Regions from separate parts of the Homo sapiens genome. Here region 2 is linked to region 1. The links come from fine-mapping of genetic effects on gene expression. Tissue or cell type: whole blood. Region 1 holds a variant in brackets; the other region holds the start of a gene. All regions are shown on one strand. Distances are from middle to middle.

Region 1 (8,104 bases):
CTTTATATATGCCTCCTTGGGCTCATATGTGGGAGTATCTCTGTAGACTAGAAGTAGAATTTGAAATTAAAAGCTATCTGGGTCAAAGTGTGTCTTCTAAGGGTTTTTCTTTTTTTTCCCAACAGTTTTTTAACAGTCACATAACTTCATATGCAAGAAGTAGCACCATTAACTAGATCAGTTATTAATTCAGCAGGTATGCATCGAGTACATACTGTGAGAACCTTCCTCTTAGGGGTTTCCAATTCCTTCAGACTCAGTGCCCCCTTTTTAAACAGTATTTTTTTAAAGACCCTTTTACTGTACCAAGGTGATACTCATAGAAAATAAAAGCATTCATATGCAAATAACTTACAAAAATCAATATATAATAATAATTATATTCAGGAGAAATAAAAGGAAAGCAGCCTATTATGAAATAATGTGTATTTCATGTAAATGCTTAGGAATAACTACCAAAGATGATATGACAAGTCACATACTTCTTAAGTAAGTACATACTTAAATAAGGGTACTAAGAAGATACAATTGTTTTGTAGATGAAATGTAGAGTCAGCTGGAATAAATGTTAAATGGAATTAATGTTAGAATAAGTGAGACTAGACTTACTTATGATAAAAACGGTTGACAGGAGGAGTTATTAAGAAGGAGAAAATTGAGGAAGGATGATGTCCTTGCAAAAGATCCATACCTTATGTGGAAGTGTTGTGCCAAAATGATTTCTTACGGTATGTCTTGCCACAGAGTAATGACATTCTGTCATAGAGAACATCTCCTTTCTTGAAATCTGTGTCTGAGGTATACCTTTAGTGTCTGATACTTTAAAAAAGACCTTGGAAAGCATATCCTTTTATTGGTCACAGAAAATAGAGAATTAGAAAATGAAAGCATTTTGTCTACCAGAATAAAAAATCAAAAATTAGCATCTGCTATGGGAGAAGATAACATCTTATTCAGGGTCACAGGTTGAGCATTGCACTTGATTTCTTCAGGGAAATTGTTAATAGGAGTGCCACCCAAACGTGAACGTAATTCTAAGTGTAGTGTGTTTCCATGTAATCAGCTGCCCACCAGGATGATTCAGGTTAGCTTTGTAATTGCAGAAGCAGCCTAGTTTTTTTAAATCTTTAGTAGCAATTAATAGGCAAGGAGACTGATAATTATGTTTCACAGTAGACTTTTATACCTCATTTTACCAAGAAAAAAAGTTTCTGTGTTATTTCTTAGATGGGTAAGAAGAGTTTTTATTTATTTTTTATTTTATTTGAGGCAGATTCTCACTCTGCCACCCAGGCTGGAGTCCAGTGGCAGGAACACAGCTCACTGCAATTTCAATCTCCTGGGCTCAAGCAATCCTCCCACCTCAGCCTCCCAAGTAGCTGGGACTGCAGGCACATGCCACCACACCCAGCTGGTTTTTTTATTTTTTGTAGAGATGAGGTCTCTCTGTGTTACCCAGGATGGTCTTGAACTCCGGGGCGTAAGCAATCCTTCCGCCTTGGCCTCGCAGAGTGCTGGGATTAGAGGTATGAGCCACCATGCCCTGCCAAGTTTTTCTTTTAAAAGTGAAGAAAAATATGAAGAACACCAGTAATTTCAGATGTGGGGTAGAAAATAAGATCATTCATACTGCTAATTTCTAGCAATATTTGCTGGTTTTAAAAGGTAGCCTTGTATTTGAAAGTTTTTTTTAATTATAAAAGTTGTTAATTTCTTTATTACCACACTATGTAAAAATAGTCATTTCCACCTCTACCTCTGTCACTTCTTAATCTCCTTACTCGTACTTGTCTTCCTCCATAATGCTTCTCATTATCTACAAACATATATACTTAATTTGTTTATCACATTAGAATGTAGATTCCAGGAAGACCAGAACTTTATTTCATTTGCTGTTGTGTTCCCAGTGCCTGAAATACAGTGCCTGGAACACAGTGAGCAATCAAGATACGTTTATTGAATGAATAAATCTTTTGCTCTTTTCTCACGTGCATATCATCTGGTTGTAATCACAGTGTGCATATAACTTTGTGTCTTGTGTTTTTATAAAATGTTATTACACAGAATAAATATCATCTTTTCCCCAGGTTGCCACATAACCTGCTTTGATCATTATTTTTCTGTATCCCGGAAACATAGCATAATTTACTAACCCGTCTCCTAGTTTGGGACATATAAATTGCTTTTGATCTTTCTGTATTATAAATTAATAGTATATTCATGTGAGGATGAAAAGATGCACAGATGGACAGACAGATGTATATATAGACAGACAGGTAAACTTTACAGTGGAAGAACTGGAGAAGTAGCTCTGCAGCTTGGAACAACACCCAGAATCACACTGCAGAGCCAGTCTCGTGAAGCTATGGCTGTACAGCCAGTACCACAAAGCTTGGAGATGGACCTCCAGCTTCCAGTGCCAAGTCTCTCAGACCAGTGAATCTTATTGACCCCCTGCTCTCCTCCAAGGGAAGCAGGACTGCAAATATCTGGTATTGTCTGTTTTTACAGGTAGAGAGAGGCACTGCCTCACCCAAACCACTGGGAGAAGGAATTCTTATATTTCCTAGAAAAATAATTTAGGACCACACACTGATAAAGCCATTTCTATATTTAGGATAATTTATATAACGTGGGTTCCCAGAAGTATAATTATCAGGCCAGAGGGCAGGAGCAAATTCTGATGATGAAGGACCAGATCTCTTGACCTCAATGGTTTAGTCTTGGAACTTTTTGCTTCCTTTATTAATCTTTCCTTTTACACATACGTAAAGCACATTTATTGGCTGTACTTATTCACTTAGTGAATAGAGTGTTTTGTTTCTTAGAACTTTAAATAGTTGTTGAGGTGAAGGGACTTATAGTCAAAGGAGAATCATCATCTCTTTTTTTTCCCCTCTTGATTAATTTTTTTTCTCTTTTAGATAGCGGTGCCTGGGTTTGTGCTAGAATCTGAAAATGGATGACATATTCATCCATTCATCACATATGGTGAATTTATTTCACCATAAATTGTTTTATGTTAGTGCACATGCAAACTTCTGTTTGTATGTGTGGAGTGGAAATTTCATCATTTATAGCAGTGTGAATTTATTCTCAAATGTTTTCTTTCAGCCTCCTTCTCCACCCTATGTAAAAGTAAATATCCGTAATACCTCTTTTCTCCTACTCTTCCCCTAGGCTTTTGTTTTGTTTTTGCTGATTGGTCAGCATTCACTTCATATCAGTTGTTGAGGTATAAAAACCAAGTAATGAGTCCCCATGTCCATCAGGGGGCTACAGCCTGCCTTAGTGGCAGGTGCTCTTGTCTCAAAGCCAGAGAACCTAGGTGTTAGTTTCAGCCTCACCACTAATGCACTGTGACTTCAGGAGCTCCCTCCCCTCAGTGGCTTTGGGGAAGGGGTGGGACTTAGAGTTGAAGTCATTCTGTGGACCTATTACAGTGTTCTTCATTTGCTCTGACTACATTTGCGTATCTTCCTGCCAGAATGGGAGGCTTCTGAGTCCAGAACTCAATCTTGTATTCATGTGCCCGGTGCGTGTTGGGTGGATATGGTTAAATGAGCCCAGTTTTGTTGTTCTTGTGGGTCTTTTCTATGTAACACAGTCCATATATTCTTGCCTACACTTTAAGTGAAAGAGGAACTTGTAAAGACCTCCTATCTTTAAGAATATTAGGGCCAGGCATGGTAGCTCACACCTGTAATTCCAGTGCTTTGAGAGGCCCAGGTGGAAGGATCACATGAGTTCAGGTATCAGTCTGGGCAACATAGTAAGACCCTGTGTCTACAAAAACTAAATTAAAGAAAAAATTTGACTGGGTGTGGTGGCTCACGACCTGTAATCCCAACGCTTTGGGAAGCTGAGGGAGGCAGATCACATGAGGTCAGGAGCTTGAGACCAGCCTGGCCAACATGGTGAAACCCCATCTCTACTAAAAATACAAAATTAGCAGGGTGTGGTGGCAGGCACCTGTAATCCCAGCTACTCGAGAGGTGGAGATAAGAGAATCGCTTGAACCTGGGAGATGGAGGTTGCAGTGAGCCGAGATTGCACTCCAGCCTGGGCGACAAGAGCAAGACTCCATCTCAAAAAAAAAAAAAAAAAAAAAAAAAAAAATTACTGGGTGTGGTGGCACATACCTGTAGTCCTGGCTACTCTGAGAGGCTGAGGCAGGAGGATCACTTGAGCCCAGGAGGTCAAGGCTGCAGTGAGCCATGATTGCACCACTGGCACTGCAGCCTGAGTGACAGAGCCAGACCTTGTCTTTATTTAATAAAAAGAAGAATATTAGATT[A/C]CTGCACCGTTAGGTTGAAGATGCTATATGCAGAACATGGTGTTTCTGGGCTCTCCAGGTCTTTCCTCCTCTCCTTGTAGGTTTAAAAATGTTTTGAGTTGGTTGGACTCCATGGTAACATTCTTGTGAACTTTCAGTTGAGGAAAGGTGATCTTTAAGGGGAAAGGGGTGGAGGGAGAGAGAGTTTAACAGTGGCAGCAATCTAGGTGAAGGGAGAACTTTGTAAAGCAGAGTACATCTTCCCTAGAAGCAATTAGTCATATTATTAGACAAACTGTTTCAGCAGCTGGCAAAACAGCAGGAACATGTCGATTTTGCTTCCTTGGTTACAGGCAGTGATAGTGTACTTGACCTTCCGCAGAGCTGGGTCACAGAGAGGGCATCTTTAAACAGCCCTGTCTGGTTTGGGTGAATGGAATCTGCACTGGCAGGGTTTGAAAGCAAATGCCTGTGAGTTCCCTCAACCAACCTCTGGCCTTTTGGGTTGGACTCTCTTTGGCCTGGGAGGTTGCTGAGGAAAAATATAAATAAAGCTGCAGGGAGCCATTGGCATGGTAAGTGTGAGTGTCCTAAAGAAAACAAGACTGCAGTATTGAAGTCTATTCTCTTTCCCTGTGTTTCTGGGGGAGAAGCCTTGTAATGCAATGTATTTCAGTAGTCACTTATTTTTACAGCAGTTAGTATAATAGCAGTGGATTTAGACACCTATTGTATATTTGAAGAAATTCAATTTAATGTCTTGCTATGCTAAGCTCTTAGCAAATCGTTTCTTAATAGGAACTTGTATTTGAATATGCTGGCTAAATTCAGGTGGGGCAAAAGTTGTTTGTTGTTTTTGGCAGGTTACTCTGCCTGTGAACAGTTTATGAACCATATTGCTCTTAAATATCTCATTGTTTTACATAATTGTGGGGAGTGGTTGTTGACTTGGGATTTTTGTTTTTTTGTGACAAGAAATTTAGCGCTAAGTTTTACCTTTTTAAAATCTCTATTGCCAACTGTAAAATTCAAAACTGGCTAATGAATTCTGATATAAATGATGCTGGTTTATAATATTTAGGTTTCATTCCCTCATTAGCTTTACTGTAAAGAAGAGCTGGATATATATGTCATCAAGAGAAGTAGTTCTTTACTAACACTGTTATTGTAAGGTTCCAGTCCTTTGAGGACTGGAACTGCACATAAAAGTCAGCAGCCTCCTGTGGATTCTTCTCGCTGATGCAAGTTGCTGCACAAAGGGGGTTAATCTCTTTGCCCATTGGCCCTTCAACACACTTACTATTTAATGGTCCTTTGAAATAAACTAAAGGAGGGTATGTGGTACATTTCAGTTCAAGCTGGAGGTGTCCCCTGCCTAACACCCTTTACCCTACTTAAGGGTTTTACATTGTTCATGATTTCACTGAAGTGTTGAGAAGTACTGAGTTCCTGTTTGAGATTTGTAACACTAGATCTGCACAATGTTTTTTCACAGAGTGTAACTCTGTTATCCTATTAGTAACCCATGAGAATTTTTGTAGCCAAAATCCAGAATAAGTTATAGATTTGGAAACTCTTAATATTGCACATTTAATTCAATGAAATGAGCATCTTTTTCTCTTTTTTAATCCCTTTTTTCTTTTTTTTTTTTCTTTTTCTTTTTTTTTTTTTTGGAGATAGGGTCTTGCTATCTCAAAGGCTGGAGCACAGTGGTGCCATCATAGCTTACTGTCACTGTAGCCTCAAACTCCTGAGCTCAAGTGCTCCTTCCGCCTCAGCCTCCTAAGCAGCTGGGACTGCAGGCATGCGACACCACGCCTGGATAATGTTTTTAATTTTTAGTAGGGATGGGGTCTTGCAATGCTGTCCAGGCTGGTACTCAAACTCCTGGCCTCAAGTGATCTTCCTACCTCGCCCTCCCAAACTGCTGTGATTATAGACATGAGCCGCTGCACCTGGCCTGTGAGCATCTTCTTCAACCTAGATGTTCATTTTTCAGCAAGTGATTCCATGTAAACGTCAGAAATTTTTCCTGACAATTATTTCCTTATAAAACAAACAAACAACAAAAACAACAACAACAAAAACCCTGCTGCCAAAGCAATGTCATGCCATTATGGAATAGAGGAGGTTCTCATTCCAGGGTGAAGATGTATGAACTTCCTCAGCAGCCTCATAAACCCCCCTGTGTCGGTGGAAGCCAGTACTCCTTGGTTTATATAATGAACTGCCAGGGCAGGTGTTGTGCTGTACCTCCAGGGTGTGTAATTAGCAGACAGGCACAAGAGTAGAGTAAAGCAAAGCAAAGTCTAGGCAGAGTCCCAGGATCAAAGGCTTAAGACAGAGACTGCTTATTCATCCCCTAAGGTATTCATTCCCTAAGTGTTCATTCACTAAGCATTCATTGTGGGCCTAATATGTGCCTGGCCTTGGGAATAAACAGAGAAATAGGAAATGTGGTGTTCTGTGGAGAGTACTAAGGTGCAGGGACTGTGGGAACCCAGAGGAGGGCATTTGTATTAACCTGAGGGGTGTCAGGAAAGGCTGGCCAGAGGAGCATGGCTTTTATTAAATTATTTAGTGTTTAATAAAACATTTGTGTGTTCTGCAAGCGTGGTTACCTTTACAAAGGATGTGAAATGGAACAGATGATTTTACCCTCTAAGTATGAGTTTGGAGACCAAGCCTTGGAAGGCCTGTGTCTAAAGATATTTCACACCCAGCTTGCCCATGGTTTTAATTGAGTCCTTTGGACTGGCAGTTTTCCTGTCAAGGTAAAATGCCCTAACCAAGGTATAACACACACCTGGGTGTTGTCAGGCATTTATACAGTGTAAACTAAGTGATCCTGTCCTTTGCAACTTGAGCAGGTTGAAAGGGTAGAAAATAGGATAAGGCAGAAGCCAAGACTGACATTAGGCACTGAGGTGTGGGCAGGAAAAAATAGAAAGGAAATGCTTCAACTAGTCAGAAATGCATCTAATATTTTTATATCCTTTTTACCAAACTGACTTTTTATTGCTGTGCTGATGAGTCTCAATAAAATATTTCTGGGAAAAAAGGCCAAGCATGGTGGCTCACGTCTGTAGTCCTAGCCCTTTGGGAGGCCAAGACAGGCGGATCACCTGAGGTCAGGAGTTCGACACCAGCCTGGCCAACATGGTGAAACCCCGTCTCTACTAAAAATACAAAAATTAGCCGGGCATGGTGGTGGGTGCCTGTAATCCCAGCTGCTCGGGAGGCTGAGGCAGGAGAATCGCTTGAACCTGGGAGGCGGAGGTTACAGTGAGCCGAAGCTGCATCACTGCACTCCAGCCTGGGCGACAGGAGCAAAACTCCATCTCAAAAAAAAAAAAAAGAAATGTTTCTGGAAAAAAAGTAAATTTCCTTCCTTGATGTCTATTCATAATTATCAGACTGTAAATTCATACAACTGCAAGAATTTCTTAGCGGTCCCATCATAACATCACTTTGCCTTCATGCAAGACCATATCTCAGCTGCCTCTGGTGCCACTAGAACATACCTTTTTTCTAATGGCTTCAGGAGTAGGGGATCCCAAACATTTTCTGTTTAACCTGTCACTTCCAGAGTTAGTCGTCTTTTCACTGAATCTCAGGGCTATTCACTCAATCTAAATTTATTACTGAGCCTACAGGGAGCCCATTGCCAGTGTGACCCATGCCCCCTCTCAGGTAAAAGGTCTTTTGGGCTTCTCATATCAAGGGAATAAATAAAATTTGCAGATGTATCCCTGAACAGGTGAGGAAGCCAAAATCCAGGGAGTTTAAACTGTACCTCAGGCAAGGTAGCAAAGCCAAGGGACAGCA
Region 2 (8,104 bases), 75 kb after region 1:
TGGGCATAGTGGTACATGCTGGTGGTCCCAGCTACTTGGGAGGCTGAGGCAAGAGGATCGCTTAAGCCCGGGAGTTTGAGGTTGCAGTGAGCCAGAGCTGTGATTGCACCACATTCCAGTCTAGGCGACAGAGCAAGGTCCTCTCTCAAAAAAAAAAAAAAAAAAAGAAAAGTGGCTCTCTGAGGATGTTATTTAACTATATGGGTATAAGACTCAAATTAAATAGTTAAGCCGCCGGGCGCGGTGGCTCATGCCTGTAATCCCAGCACTTTGGGAGGCCGAGGCGGGTGGATCACGAGGTCAGGAGATCGAGACCATCCTGGCTAACACGGTGAAATGCCGTCTCTACTAAAAATACAAAAAATTAGCCGGCGTGGTGGCGGGCACTTGTAGTCCCAGCTACTCAGGAGGCTGAGGCAGGAGAATGGTGTGAATCCAGGAGGCAGAGCTTGCAGTGAGCCGAGATCGCGCCACTGCACTCTAGCCTGGGTGACAGAGCAAGACTCCATCTCAAAAAATAAATAAATAAATAGTTAAGCCTTGAAAACTGCTGCCTCTAGGGGAGGAATAGAGGCCTTGGAGACCCTCACAGCACACAGACCTGGGAGCTCAAAGGCTGAATTTACCTTCCAGGGCGTAGCAGGCCTCTGATCAGTTCCCACCCCACTGCAGAGTATCCCAGTGTCACAGAACTTTTTACAAATAAACTAGGACATAGCCAGGTGAGACGTTCCCATACTTTAAACTACTAGGACAGAAATGCAACAGAGATCTTAAAATGGTTCTTGCTGAAACACAAGATGAAAGTTAAGTCCCTCTCTCTCTCCCTCTGCCTCTCCGTCTCCCTCTCCCCACGGTCTCCCTCTCCCTCTTTCCACGGTCTCCCTCTGATGCCGAGCCGAAGCTGGACTGTACTGCTGCCATCTCGGCTCACTGCAACCTCCCTGCCTGATTCTCCTGCCTCAGCCTGCCCAGCGCCTGCGATTGCAGGCGCGCGCTGCCACGCCTGACTGGTTTTCGTATTTTTTTGGTGGAGACGGGGTTTCGCTGTGTTGGCCGGGCTGGTCTCCAGCTCCTAACCGCGAGTGATCCGCCAGCCTCGGCCTCCAGAGGTGCCGGGATTGCAGACGGTGTCTGGTTCACTCAGTGCTCAATGGTGCCCAGGCTGGAGTGCAGTGGCATGATCTCGGCTCGCTATAGCCTCCACCTCCCAGCCGCCTGCCTTGGCCTCCCAAAGTGTCCAGAGTGCAGCCTCTGCCCGGCCACCACCCCGTCTGGGAAGTGAGGAGCGTCTCTGCCTGGCCGCCCATCATCTGGGATGTGAGGAGCCCCTCTGCCTGGCTGCCCAGCCTGGAAAGTGAGGAGCGTCTCTGCCCGGCCGCCCATCGTCTGAGATGTGGGGAGCGCCTTTGCCCCGCCGCCCCATCTGGGATGTGAGGAGCGCCTCTGCCCGGCCGCGACCCCGTCTGGGAGGTGAGGAGCATCTCTGCCCAGCCACCCCGTCTGAGAAGGGAGGAGACCCTCCGCCCGGCAGCCGCCCTGTCTGAGAAGTGAGGAGCCCCTCCGCCCGGCAGCCGCCCCGTCTGAGAAGTGAGGAGCCCCTCCGCCCGGCAGCCGCCCCGTCTGGGAAGTGAGGAGCGTCTCCGCCCGGCAGCCGCCCCGTCCGGGAGGGAGTTGGGGGTCAGCCCCCGCCAGGCCAGCCGCCCCGTCTGGGAGGGAGGTAGGGGGCTCAGCCGCCCGGCCAGCCGCCCCATCCGGGAGGGAGTGCGGCGGGTCAGCCCCCCGCCCGGCCAGCCGCCCCGTACTGGGAGGTGAGGGGCACCTCTGCCTGCCGCCCCTAATGCGAAGTGAGGAGCCCCTCTGGCCCGGGCCAGCCGCCCGGTCCGGGAGGGGAGGTCAGGGGGTCAGCCCCCCGCCCGGCCAGCCGCCCCGTCCAGGAGGTGAGGGGGCGCCTCTGCCCGGGCCGCCCCTACTGGGAAGTGAGGAGCCCCTCTGCCCGGCCAGGCCGCCCCGTCCGGGAGGGAGGTGGGGGGTCAGCCCCCCGCCCGGCCAGCCGCCCCATCCGGGAGGGAGGTGGGGGGGGTCAGCCCCCTGCCCGGCCAGCCGCCCCGTCCAGGAGGTGAGGGGCGCCTCTGCCCGGCCGCCCCTACTGGGAAGTGAGGAGCCCCTCTGCCCGGCCACCACCCCATCTGGGAGGTGTGCCCAACAGCTCATTGAGAACGGGCCATGATGACAATGGCAGTTTTGTGGAATAGAAAGGGGGGAAAGGTGGGGAAAAGATTGAGAAATCGGATGGTTGCCGTGTCTGTGTGGAAAGAGGTAGACATGGGAGACTTTTCATTTTGTTCTGTACTAAGAAAAATTCTTCTGCCTTGGGATCCTGTTGATCTGTGACCTTACCCCCAACCCTGTGCTCTCTGAAACATGTGCTGTGTCCACTCAGGGTTAAATGGATTAAGGGCGGTACAAGATGTGCTTTGTTAAACAGATGCTTGAAAGCAGCATGCTCGTTAAGAGTCATCACCACTCCCTAATCTCAAGTACCCAGGGACACAAACACTCTGCCTAGGAAAACCAGAGACCTTTGTTCACTTGTTTATCTGCTGACCTTCCCTCCACTATTGTCCTATGACCCTGCCAAATCCCCCTCTGCGAGAAACACCCAAGAATGATCAATTGAAAAAAAAAAAAAAAGAAAGTTAATAATGGCAGGAACCTTGAGTTGAGCAACTGCTGTATATGCCAGACACTTTGCTAGGCACCTGACTCTCCAACCCCAGAAGGTGGGGTTTTACAATTTAAGGAAACTAAGGTCAGAAGTTAAGTAAACTGCCCCAGGTCTAACTGGGCTGATTAGTCTGGCCTTCGATCACACTGTTCTGTCACCATCAAATTCACCCTGAGGCTTGGGGACCACTTGTTCAGGGTAGAACACCTGGCAGAGGTGAGTAAGGACTTGGCCCTCAAATACTAAATAAGGCACCTTCCCATTGCCCCCAGCAGGTACCCAAAGACTGGCTGGACCGGTCGCAGGCACTTGGGATGGAGGTAGGTCCCAGTGGGGCAGCTGAAGGGCTGAGGGCACATGAACAAACAAGGGCTGGGGATTGGGGGAGGACTGCGGCTAGCCAGAGCAAGGCAGACAGACTCCAACCCACGGGTACAAGATCACAGAGGGCACAGGTGGCACAGGCCAGCCCCTACCACCAGGAACAAAGAAACAGTGAATGGCTGTTTGTATCCCATTTACCTAGAGGACATTAAAATATCTGAGAATGTAAGTAAGAGGCTCACAGGCTTATTTTGATTGGCTGGCCATTTAAAAGCCAGAGATTTACATAAAAACCTAGATTTCAGCTTCTTGACAAATGAGAAATTCTCCACGGAGCCCACAATGCCAAACAGTGAAGGGCCCTCTGGATAGGGCATGTGCTCTCCAGCTCGCTGCGGGCCGCACCGAGACCCCCACCCCTTCCCATTATCTGCCTGGCAGTTGCCCGGGGACAAAGGTGTGCACAGTTGTGCAGTAGGTTATGAAGGAGTATCTGGGTGCCCATACACCCTAAGACCAAGACCAAGTCTTCCAGGAAGCCATCAAGCCAGCTGATTCCAGGCAAGCAGGTCCAAGTTATCAGATTCACCTGCGCAGAGCAAATGGCTAGGAAGCGGCTTCCGGATCTCTTGAAGGGCCATGCAGTGAAGGTCCGTCACCAAGGGGACCATGCCCCACAAGAAGTTGCTCCCCGCCCCCACGCCTCATTTTGATCCAACATACACCCAAGTCCCAAAGTTTCTGCGGGCTAAGGCTGCCTCCTCCATCACTGCTGAACTCCCAGCACACAGCACACAGCCTAGCACTCAGAGTGTACTCAATAAATGTAGACTTCATACCTGCAGAGCCTAAGGCACTGCTTAGGGCTGCCTCAGGGTCAATCCAAACCTTTCACTTGCCAACTGCCATTCAATGAGTCCCTACTCTGCTCCAAGCTGAAAGACATCCTAGGCGTTCCCTACAGTTCCTTCTAGTCGGGGTAGGGTCTGCCGCTGCACAGCTGACATAATTAATCACTTCCTTCCAAACCTTGAGTCCCGAAGGAAGCGGCCACACTGCCCGGCTCACCGCTCACCGGCTGGCATGGTGTCTCGTGGAGCTGCAAGTTACTTAACCTCTCTGTGCGCTTCCCCAGCCTTAGAGTGGGGATAAGCTGGGGTTTCTCTAGGCATCAGAAAAAAGAAAGCGCGAGAAGCATTCAGAACTGTGCGAGATATGATCAGTGTTCGCCGCTGTTATTTCTCTCATTTTATCCTCAGATTCGTCCTGGGGTGTCACCCCCGTCACCCCGAAAGGATCTGCGGCTGCCCCTCCCCAGCGCTTGCCTTGCTGGCCAGAGGGGCCAAGGGAACTGGTGGCCTCCCTCGGGTCAGCCTCGCCCACCGCGCCGGAGGAAGGAGATCCAGGAGTGGGGTTCTTGTCCTCCGCCCCCCAAACCTCGTCACGACTGCAGCCGGCCCGGCGGGGGCCCCGCCGTCCGCCTCAGTCTGGACCTCTGTAAAATGGGGGTAACAGCGCCGACCTGGGGGGCCCGCCCCGGGGATGAACGGCCGCCCAGAGCGACTCGGGACCTCACGTTACCAGCAGGCTGGCACGACTAGCAGGTTACGGCTCGCCAGGCGGCCGGGGCTGCGACTGACCTGGCGCCCTCGCCCAGCTCCCCATGCGTGTTGTAATTCACTGTCATGACCTTCACGGAGTCCTTGAACACCACGTTCCCCTGGCTCAGATATTGCAGGGTGCGGCGGATGGGGAAGCGGCCCTTCATGGGCATGGCGGCAACGGTGGCGGGGCCGACCCCACGGGCCGCGAGCCGAGCAGCGACGAGAAAGGACTAGCTAGCACCCGCGCGGATCTCACGCGGCTTCTCCCCAGAGCCAGGTTCCACTTCCCGCGCAGACGCACAGGAGACGCTTCCCGGCGGGCAGCGCACGCCGCGGAGCACTCTGGGACTTGTAGGCGGCCTTCGACCCGGCGCGGCGAGAACCGGTGTGTGCAGCTTCGCTTTAGGACGCCTTCCCCTTGGAAGGTTTAGGTTGTCGCGTCCTGTAAATTAGTCATTTCCCCATCCACCCACGGGAAAATATTTTTACATAGGCTAAAAGTCAGACATTGCAATAAGAAATAATCAGGAAAGCTCAGTTTGGATACCAAGTCAGCTGATAACGTCCTATTGAACGTATTGTCCATTTTTCTCCCCAAACATCTCCAGTTTTATCATGAAGAGTTCAAACTGCACTTTCTGACGTTGACTTAAACTTCTTAGCAAAAGAAAAAAAGATGGTTTGGGATCAATTCCTTCCTAAATTCAGCCACTTAACTCAGGACCTCAATTTTTTCGTAAACAAACTATGGGTGAGATGTATTTCTAGGGCCAGGCGCGGTGGCTCCCGCCTGTAAACCCAGCCTTTGGGGAAGCCGAGGCGGAAGGATCGCTTGAGGTCAGGAATTCGAGACCAGCCTGCCCAACATGGCGAAACCCCGTCTCTACTGAAAATACAAAAATTAGCCTGGTGTGGTGGCAGCACCTGTGGTCCCAGCTACTCAGAAGACTGAGGTGGGAGGATCGCTCGAACCCGGGAAGTTGCAGTGAGCCGAGATCGCGCCACTGCACTCCAGCCTGGGCGACAGAGCAAGACTCCCTCTCAAAAAAAAAAAAGATACATTTCTGAAGTACTCTTGATCTGAAAGGTATTTCTCCTTCTCTTTTGAAGAGTGATTTTGCCAGATTTAGAATTCTAGGTTAGTGTTTTTCCTTTCCCTCCCTCCCTTCTGGAGTGCAATGGTGCTATCTTGGCTCACCGCAACCTCCGCCTCCCAGGTTCAAGTGATTCTCCTGCCTCAGCCTCCCGAGTAGCCGGACTTACAGGCATGCGCCACTACACCCAGCTAATTTTGTATTGTCAGTAGAGACGGGGATTCTCCATGTTGGTCAGGCTGGTATCAAACTCCTGACCTCAGATGATCCGCCCGTCTCAGCTTCCCAAAGTGCTGGGATTACAGGCGTGAGCCACTGCGCCTGGCCCTGGTGTTTTTCTTTCAACAATTTAAATAGTTCACTCCACTCTTTTTTTGCTTGCATGGTTTCAAACAAGTAATTAAATGCAATTACATTTATAGGTATGATGGCTTTTTCCTTTAGCTTCTTTCAAATTTTCTCTTGGTGTTTGGTTTACGGGGTTAGAATAAGGTAATGCAGATCTGTAGATGTTTTGTATTTGTCCTGCTTGGAGTCCTCTGAGCCTCCTGGATCTGTGATTTCATGTCTGTCATTAATTTTGTAAAGTTCTTAGCCATTTATTAGTTCAGGTATTTATTCTTCACTCTTTTCTCTTTCTAGTATTCAAGTTAAATGCATTTTATGTCTTCTGGAATTGCCTCATAGTTCTCGAATGTTCTGGCGGGGTGATGGAGGTTCTCTTTGCATTTTAGTGGGGAAGTTTCTGTTGACCTATCTTCAAATTCATTTAATCTTTGGTTATGGACAGTCTACTGATAAGCCCATTAAGGCATTTTTCATTTAAGGTTTTAACTTCTAGCACTTCCTTTTGATTCTTAGGGTGTTTGTTTGTTTGTTTTGAGACAAAGTCTCTGTCACCCAGCCTGGAGTGCACTGGTGCAATCTCTGCTCACTGCAACCTCTACCTCCTGGGCTCAAGCAATTCTCCCACCTCTGCCACTTAGCTGGGACTACAGGTGCACACCACCATGCCTGGCTAATTTTTTTTTTTTTTTTTTTTGAGACGAAGTCTCGCTCTGTCACCCAGGCTGGAGTGCAATGGCACTATCTTGGCTCACTGCAACCTCTGCCTCCCAGGTTCAAATGATTCTCCTGCCTCAGCCTCCCAAGTGGCTGAGATTACAGGTGCCCACCACCACACCCAGCTAGTTTTTGTATTTTTAGTAGAGACAGGGTTTCACCATGTTGGCCAGGCTGGTCTTGAACTCCTGACCTCGTGATCCACCCGCATTGGCCTCCCAAAGTGCTGTGATTACAGTCATGAGCCACTGTGCCCAGTCTAATTTTTGTATTTTTAGTAGAGATGGGGTTTCACCTTGTTGGCCTGGCTGGTCTCAAACTCCTGACCTCAAGTGATCTGCCTGCCTCAGCCTCCCAAACTGCTGGGATTACAAGTGTGAACCACCACACCTCGCATGATTCTTAGTTTTCTTATGTCTGTTTACATTACCCATCTGTTCTTGTATGTTGTTTACTTTTACCATTAGACCCCTTAACAGACCACATTTTAAATTTCTTGTCTGATAATTCCAATATCTGAGTGTGATTCTGATGTTTGCTTTGTTTCATCTGATTGTTGGGTTTATTTTTTTCCTTGCCTTTTAGCATGCTTATAATTTTTTTGTTGAAGGTAGAATATCCACTCTATTGGGCCATAGGAACTGGGGTAAATAAGCCTCTAGAATGAGAACTTATGTTAATCTGGCTCAGAGTTGAGAGCTGTGTTTAATGTTTGCCATAGCTGTAGGTGTCAGAGGCTTCCAGTTCCTCTAGTGTCTTTGTGTTTATCTCCTCTTGCCTTTGGGCTTCCCTCGATATTCCTCCTGAGAGAGTCCGTGTCTTGCAGCTCTTCCAGGTATAATTCACTGTTACTATCCTGGAGTCCTGTTGATGTGGTGGAAAAACATGGGGGAGGTGAAGCATTCTATAATCTTACGATTAAATCTCAGCATTTTAGTGGGCTTGTGTCCTTGGGCTGTGACCTACACAAGTGTTCTTTCCTTTTTTTTTCTTTTTCTTTTTTTTTTTTTTTTTTGAGGCAGTGTCTTGCTCTATCACCCAGGCTAGAGCGCAGTACAGTGGCGCAATCACAGCTCACTGCAGCCTCTACTTCCCAGGCTCAAGCAATTCTCCCACCTCAGCCCCGAGTAGCTTGGACTATGGCATGTGCCACAATGCCTGGTTAATTTTTGTATTTTTTGTAAAGATGAGGTTTTGCTATATTGCCCAGACTGGTCTTGAACTCCCGGGCTCAAGCAATCTGCCCACCTTGGCCTCCCAAAGTGCTGGAATTACAGGCGTGAGCCACCGCA

The links. PIP is the estimated chance that this variant, and not a neighbour inherited with it, causes the effect.
Region 2: MRPS25 starts here. The variant in region 1 is fine-mapped to the expression of MRPS25 in whole blood (TOPMed, PIP above 0.99).

Annotation. Positions count from the first base shown.
Region 1 is chr3:14,985,835-14,993,938 of GRCh38, forward strand. The region is part of intron 1 of NR2C2 (nuclear receptor subfamily 2 group C member 2); the gene reads left to right. Among named protein-coding and RNA genes, the nearest start is that of FGD5-AS1, 41 kb to the left of the region's middle. The variant A/C (reference allele first, on the strand shown) is at 4,298.
Region 2 is chr3:15,060,369-15,068,472 of GRCh38, forward strand. MRPS25 (mitochondrial ribosomal protein S25) reads right to left here and starts at 4,947. Exons shown (of 4, transcript NM_022497.5): 1 at 4,693-4,947. The coding sequence starts at 4,826. RefSeq lists an enhancer at 4,927-5,106.